Homo sapiens: one gene and its partner. The protein of the gene in region 2 interacts with the protein of the main gene of each other region in a biochemical or structural test. Each region holds a gene or a part of one and is shown on either strand. Other genes may lie near its edges.

Region 1 (3,987 bases), on a different chromosome or scaffold from region 2:
TTTATGTTTCCTTAGCCATTACATACCTTTATCATACCTAAAGCATCAATAAGTAAATTCAGAAAATAAGAACATGGGTCATTGGAAAGTAGAAATACATAGAGTTTAGTAAGCATAGTTAAAATCTTATTTTATAAACCAGACTATCTGGAAATCTAAGTCTAAGAAGTCAAAGTATAATATTTGGCCTAAATTATATGATTGGAATCCACATTTATCAAATGAACCAAACAATAATTTTTTTTTGTTTTGTTTTAGTCTCCTCAAAGTTTAGCCAACTTGTCTCTGGAATAAAAAGTGTAGGATGGATTTACCTGGTTCACTTAATATGCTTTTTGGATGACTATGAAAAGATTATCTAGTGTCTACACTTCCTGGAATAAGATGAGAACCTTATGTGTTTTCCATGATCAAAGTGTTTAACAAAGGTCAAGTTACTTCCCTTGCACTTCAAAAACAAAAAAAAATCTAGATACTTTGGTGAATTATTTAATGTTTTTCACTTTATGTAATATCAAAAATGAGTTGGGTGGGGGAAAATCCATTCTTTCCATCATATCACTCACCTCAAGACAGACTCAGTCCTGTCCTTTGTTAGCCTCCTTTTCAGGATGATTGTAACACATCACATCAGTATTCATAGTGAAGACAAATTAATCAAAGATGTCTTTTTGTTTTTTATAAAAGTCATACAATCTTATGTGAATTTTACATAGATACAGAATATGCTAAAGATATAGAAGCAGCTCAGTGCACAATGGTTCATGTAAGTAGCTAAATCAGGTGAATGAACTTACATGCATATGTCACACAAACAACCTCTGAGAAATTACCAGCTCCCATTCAGTCCTGCTGTGATTTGCCCATCATCACACAGTCATGTCTTAAATTCCAGGTTATTAAACTGACCACTAAGAAGATTGAGTAACCGAGTGGAAAATCTAGAATCTGGTCTATCTAGAATCAGATAGACCCCGATTAAGACCCCAGCCTTCACCCCACCCCCTACAACTCTCATTTGCTATTAGCTGGTGACCTTGGAAAATTAGAAAGACTACCAAAAAAAAGTAAGAATTTGTTTGTGTGCTGTGTATTTCTGTATGTTTTCCCTTTTCTCTCCACATAAACATTTTTTCAGAATAAATTACAAAACAAACAAACCAAAACAAAATAGGACTATTGTCTAGTACCTCTTCACATCTACCAACTTTATTTATTGAATATCTAATAATAATCTACACAACTCAGTGGCAGCACCAGAACTTCCATAATTTAAAAGTCTGCAAAGAAAATCTGGTTGTAACAGGGACCTGGAGGAAGTCTTGTAAGAATATAAGTTTTACTTAATATGTTATATATAGATCTTAAGATAGTGATTTTTAAATTTATAATTTATAAAACATTGATAACACCAATAATTATCTGTAGCAAGGTATGTTGTTACTTTGAGGAGGAAGTTTTGGGGTGCTGATGAAGATTTTGGAAGATTTAAAACACCATCTCCAAGAAGCCACTGATAGAAAATACGGGCTTCATGGGATAGGTGTCCTCAGCCCAAATTACATGGAAAACACTCACAAAATAGTTGTTTATCAAATGAACTAATAAGTTAATAAATAACTGAATAGATCTAGTTGTCCTAGTCAAATGAAATACTCAAAAAGTTTTTAGATCCTGAGAACTGGAAACCTGAAATTCTTATTTTTCTATTCATTTCTATATTTTTCAAATTGTCTAGAATAATCAAGGTTTACTTGGGAAAAAATTGAACATGAAATTTCATACACAGCATGTGATCAAAAGATAGAGGAAGAAAAACAAAATGTTAGCATGGGCTCTAAGCAATTTCTTTTTCCTTCTATTTCTTGACATTTTCCAAATTTTCTATTATGTAGAAATTTTTACCATAAATAATTCCCATAAATAACAATAAAAGGACAGAATCAAAATTGTTTTTAAGAATTATTAAGTGCCTTCTACATACAGAGTTGGGTTAAGCTGACAGACCATTCGTTTGTTCAGCAAACAGGTACTGAGGACCTGCAGGCACTGGCAAATAAGCAGAGACCCAGTGATAGCCTACATGAGCTCACCAGTTGCTGCAAGAGAGCCTGGTAAAGAGAACTCCAAGAGAATTATTCAAAGGATCATCACAGCAGAAGAATACCTATGCAGGTGTGAAAGGGGCTGAAGAGCAAGGGTTATACAAGTGGGATAGGGGCTGTCTAGAGGACATGATCTTTACAGTAAATTTGAATACAATTTATAATTTGCACCATTGATAAAAAGATGTGGAGAGAAGGAAAAACAGCATGGCCAACAGTAGGAAGACCAAACAAGGTCACATTTTTAGAAAAATGCAAGTTACAAAAAGAGTCACAAAGTGGTTAGAGATAAAGCCAGACAAATCTGAAGAGATTCAATTACATATGTGTGTGCAATGCTAATTGCTTTTATTTTTCCTAAATGCACAAAGACCAAAGTAGGATGATTTGACACTTTCCCCACACACTATTTTACATTGAGAAGATTTTAAACTTATCACCTTGATTCTTCTCTTTACTTTTTGCTCCAATAATGAATAAGAAATTGGTACTAAGTGTGAAAGCTAATAAGAGGAATACCATACAAATGAATGAGAATTCAAACATAATAATTCCAGGCTATCAAGCAGTCTTAAAAGTGTTTCTAAAGTTTCTATTGGCTAGATAAGAAATAATCGAAAGTCTTAAAATTTCAAAATGAATCTAGCTCAAAGAGCTGTCAATCTCCACATTAATGTCACTGATAGAAATTTCAACACAACAAAAAATTGAGAATGGTTAATATTGCCCGATTTAAGTTTGACAAAAATGAAAAATTACATAAATTATATTTTTTGTAGCATTGAGACACAAAACCAATTAAAAAAACTAAACTAGCGGTAGCCAAAACTACACACAGAAAATGTTTCTGGCCAAAGAGAAGAATTTAAATGGTTTTGGAAAATTTAGATCTGTATTGTTTGAAAAGAAGAATTACCTTTAGAAAAGTAATAATCACAAAGGAAAATTCCAAGCATAAGCTATATTCAGTAGAACTTGACATGGGTAAAATGGATTCATGAATCTAATAGTTATTGTAAAAATTAAATGAAAGTGATGCTGCTAAACATTAGTTCAGTAAAATTAAAATTAAAATGGAAAAACTGCCAAGGATTTCACTAGGTAATATATATATAATCATCAGGGAATTAAATTGGTCTAATGGAGTTTTTTTCCTCCAAAATTTATCTTTAAGGAAAACTCATAAATGTTGGTATATTCTAATTAAATATTTGTTTTCATAAAAGTTGAGCCAAAACATACTTGGTATCAAATCACGGGTTCAGTATATTTTCTACCAATAGGAGCTTTTAAAAGAGGAATGGACAAAGGTAAGTTCTGCCTTTTACAAAGATTATCCTGGTAATGGTGGGTATGGACACAGTAAGGATTGAAGGCAGGTGAGACTTCAGGATATTTTTACACTAAGAAATCCCTGGCAAAGTAGAAGTGTGTGGATTTACAAACTATTTAGACTGTAGAATCTGGAGAAGCCTGAAAAATCTCTGAAATAAAGAATGCAAAGTTAAAAGAATTCAAAGGCCTATAAGGGATTATGCCTCTATCACTTAACCTTAAACTATCCCTTTATCTGCTCACAGTGTCTGAAAGGAAGAGATATCATTTGGAATCAAGTTTATGCTAAAAGGCTATGTGCTCTGATTTCATGGGCTCACATGAAAAAATTTACTTCTCAGAGTATCACATAATTTCAAAGCATTTTCACAAATATTATAACTTTTAATGCTTACAACACTTTATAGATGAGGAAATTGGGTCTCAAGGGTGAAAATTGATTTAGCTAAAAATCACAAGATTCATAGAGTTAGATTTTCAAAATATTTATCACTACAGATGTCATGATGTTTCCCAGCTTGGAGTGGTTTCTGCCTCATTTTCTATT
Region 2 (3,987 bases):
TGGCAGGCGCCTGTAGTCCCAGCTACTCGGGAGGCTGAGGCAGAAGAATCGCTTGAACCCGGGAGGCGGAAGTTGCAGTGAGCCGAGAGCGTGCCACTGTACTCCAGCCTGGTGACAGAGCGAAACTCCGTCTCAAAAAAAAATAAAAAAATAAAAATAAATAAAAATAAATAAAAAATAATTTTTTCAGAAGCATTTCCACTGATTAATTTTTAATAACATTACTTCCCCTTCCAAATAATGGAAAACACTGATACGCCACTGCATTATTTATCCAACCAATACTTTCTATTTGCAATTCCACAAACATATTAGTTTAGCTATTATTACGGTGATTCCATGTGATTAAAAATATTTATATTTATGGCATTAGAAATAAACATAAATTTATCTTTCAAAGATCAATTCTTTATCTCCTCAAAAGTTTTCTTTACATGCCATGATTATTCTGAAATGAACATTTTAGAGTATATATATATATATTTCTGTAGTTTGTATCATTTAAATTATGATCATCAAATACCCAAGTCCCTGAATGTAGTACAAAACATTGCTTATCAATTAGCAGGCTATTAGTCCTTTGAAATCAAGAACACTTTGCTTCTTGAGAACACTGCAGTATTTCTAGAAAAAAATCACTGAGAGGCTGGGCCTAAAAAATAGACATTATATATATTTTCCCCCCAAGACATAAAGTCTAATTTTACCTGCATTGTCAGAGAAACAGACTGTTTAAACCAGAGGAAATGAGTCCTCTTAGGGTTAAATATGGAGACAATAATTTATATGCTGGCTTCCTTCCTCCAGTCTCCTCTCTACTCTCTTACAAGCAGAGATTTCTACATAGCTGTTCTATACACACGGGGGAATATGGAAGTCCTCAGAACTATTTATTTTCTAAGATTTCCTTGGGAGGTAGAATTTCATAAATGATTCCTACATCATTTTGCTGCATACTTTTCAGAGGCATTTCAGAAAATATCTAAGTCAAGCACACTTCTTGGATAGATGAATGAAAAAGAGGTGGTTTCTCCACTAAGAATTTCTTTGAGCTCAAAAATCAAGTTCAATATAAATTCTCCAGGCAAAATTATTCAATCACAAAAATCTCAAAAAGGCTTAAATTTTCTTAGAAGACATAAAAAAGATACTAATTTTACTATGTAAGAATGTTAAACAGTTTTGTAAATTAAAACCAAAATGAAATAAAAAGAAGTGACAAAATGGAAAAAATACTTGAGAAGCATATTACGAGGTGCTAGCTTATCTCTAGTAAAAAAAAGCTTTCACGAATTATAAAAATAGACAAAAGAACTTGTAGTTTCACAAAATGAAATAAAGTCGTTGATGAACAGATTAAATCTTCAACCTCAGTCATAACTCAATAAAAGCCCTTAAAAACAATGAGGTACAGCTTTTTACCTATCAGATTGGCAAAGATGAAAAACTTGGAATATGCAGCACTAGTGCAGTGTAGACAAGGTATAGACAAACAGGCACTCAAACTACTGGCAGAAATATAAATCCGTGTGTAACCTTCTTAGAAGGCAATTCTACGTAATATCTCTCAAAGTAAAAATACACATATATTTTGATGCAGCAATTCTACTGGATCCCAGTTACCCTAGTACTTATGTGAAATATGCAGGGAGAACAATGTATGTACTACATCATCTCTAACAGCTAAACATAACAAACAACCTAACTGTCCATTAGGAGGAAAATGCAAATAAATTATGATATATCTATAAAAAATGGGTCCCATGCATCTATTAAGAATGAGGTAGAGCTCTTAAGACATAGTTAGTGAAAAGAACAAAGTATAGAAGATCTATATGATAGAATTCCATCAATAGAAAACACAATGTGTGTGCAGATTTGCATGGATTGCATATATTTGTAAATGCAAAGAAACATTCTGAAAGCCACATCAACTGTGATGGGACTGGGTGAGGGTAAAAGGCTTTCACTTATTTCAATATTTTCCCATATAGTTTTAATTTTTACCATTCTGTATATGTTACTTTTAAAATATAATTTAAAACACTAAAGTTAAATTGCATTTTATTTAAAATAACCAAATCTTTACACCATGTAGGAAACCCTCCACGAAAAACCCTGAAGTTGGAACAGCTGTATTAGGGACCCGGTGTCTTTCTGCTTTAATAGGAGTGGCATGTAAAAGTGATTCATAAGCGCTTTGTGCATTTACCGTTAAAATGCCAAAATCAAGTAGGGGATAAAATTCATAGTCTAGTCTATATTACCAAAGCATTTCTAAAGAAAAAATTTAAACATTTAAACAGATATTCTGATACCACCTTTTAACATAACTTTAGGGTATGTTTAGGGGTAGGCCTGGCTGGTAAAAAATATTTCATTAAAAAAAATTAGTCAACTGCTTAGAATTGCAACTAATACTTATGAAATGCAAAAAAAGCACATTTTAAACCCTAATATTTAGTGGGAAAATATTACAAAAGAGTTATATCCATTGCAAAAGGATTCTATTGATATAAATGTATATAATTTCATGTATTAAGAATTACAGAACCTGAAAGACAAGTTAACCTTAAGTTTATAGTTTAAAATCTGAGATTAAAAACACGAATGAGCCTTTTCCACCTTTTCATTCTTTGTTTCAACTTAAGTTACACAGAAGATTTCCTCACTGGGTTTTATGTAGCACTGTCACCTTGTACGCACCTGTCAGGCTGTCTGGCCTGGGTGGAACCATCCTCTCATAAATGTCATACTGCTGCTGTCCGAATTGCTCCATGTCATGAACAGTCCTTTGCAGTGAAGGTCCCAGATGCTGTGGTACGGCGGTCATCCCTGAGCGTTTGGGGGACGACGACCCCACCTGGCCTTGGGATGGGGAAGCTACTCGAGTCTGTGCATCCGTCAGGGTCAGTGGGGACCCCACTCTGGCGGTGGTTTGGTATTGAGGGGTTGGTCCGTTGGGATTGGAGGTCTGCCGGGAGGTGACTGACCCAATCCGCCGTATAGCTGTTGGGGAGGCGGGTCTCTGTGAGTACGGAGAGGCTGCCCGTGCAGCAGGTAATGTGGTGGAGGAATATGCACTGGGGTTCAGAGGTCGGGGGTCGGTCACTGACGGAGAGCCAAATCCACTACCCAGAGAAGTTCTCAGAGACCCCCTTGAAGGAGACACGCCTGTGCTGATAACATAAGAAGGAGACTGTGCTCTAGATGGAACTGAACTAACTCTTCTCATGGCCCGATTGGCTACTGATGGCTGATGAAAGGGGGGGAAAAAAGAGAATGGGTTTATCCAGGGTTTTGTGTTCATTGCCATTACAAAAGAAATACACATAGCTCACTACAGAATGTGAATCCACTATTTTAGGCATCTAAGATTCTTTTCCTTTTTATGCTTTGAGCCAGACATTAATTTTTCCTCACGGTGCTTTAGTTGTTTTAGTTTTTTTTTTTTTTTTTGGTGGTTTAAACCAAATGCTAAAATTAACCTGTAAAAAGAGATCTGAAGACATTTAATACTCCTTTTTTATCTTTACATTTTTAACTATTGCCTATGCATTTTTCACAGCACATAAAATGTTTTATTCTAAGTGTTACATGTAATTCATGAGCGTGAAGGGGCACCAGAACAATGTACTTACTTCATTCCCTATGAAGCAAAGTTTGGCCAAGGCAATGCATTTATGTAAAACAAAAATTTGAATATAATTTGAATATATCAGTCTAAATGTAGCTAGTGGAATATTTATCATTGTTTTTCTTTATGGGTTGGTCCCATTAACAAAAGGAACATGTTCTTTCATTGTGGAATAAATGAACATTTGGATCAAGTGTGGGTCTGGCGCTCTCCACTGTGAATTTACTTCGGGGAACAGCTTGGCTACACAGGTGCTCTAGGCAAATTTGTTGATTCCTTTAGATCAAGCATAGCTTCTCACTTTAGCCATTTCTTTTTACCTCTTCTGATCTATGAGTTCTTAGCTTTAA

The links. Proteins that work in one complex are often made in the same cells at the same time.
Region 1: of the proteins of PKP4 (region 2) and PTPRC, one has a biochemical effect on the other in vitro, tested with the Homo sapiens proteins (one large-scale study listed by IntAct).

What each region holds. Positions count from the first base shown.
Region 1 is NC_000001.11:198,645,397-198,649,383, reverse strand, and holds part of PTPRC (receptor-type tyrosine-protein phosphatase C isoform 1 precursor), read right to left. Parts: intron 1-3,987. UniProt on the Homo sapiens protein: Protein tyrosine-protein phosphatase required for T-cell activation through the antigen receptor. Acts as a positive regulator of T-cell coactivation upon binding to DPP4.
Region 2 is NC_000002.12:158,624,147-158,628,133, reverse strand, and holds part of PKP4 (plakophilin-4), read right to left. Parts: intron 3,257-3,987; coding exon 2,707-3,256; intron 1-2,706. UniProt on the Homo sapiens protein: Plays a role as a regulator of Rho activity during cytokinesis. May play a role in junctional plaques.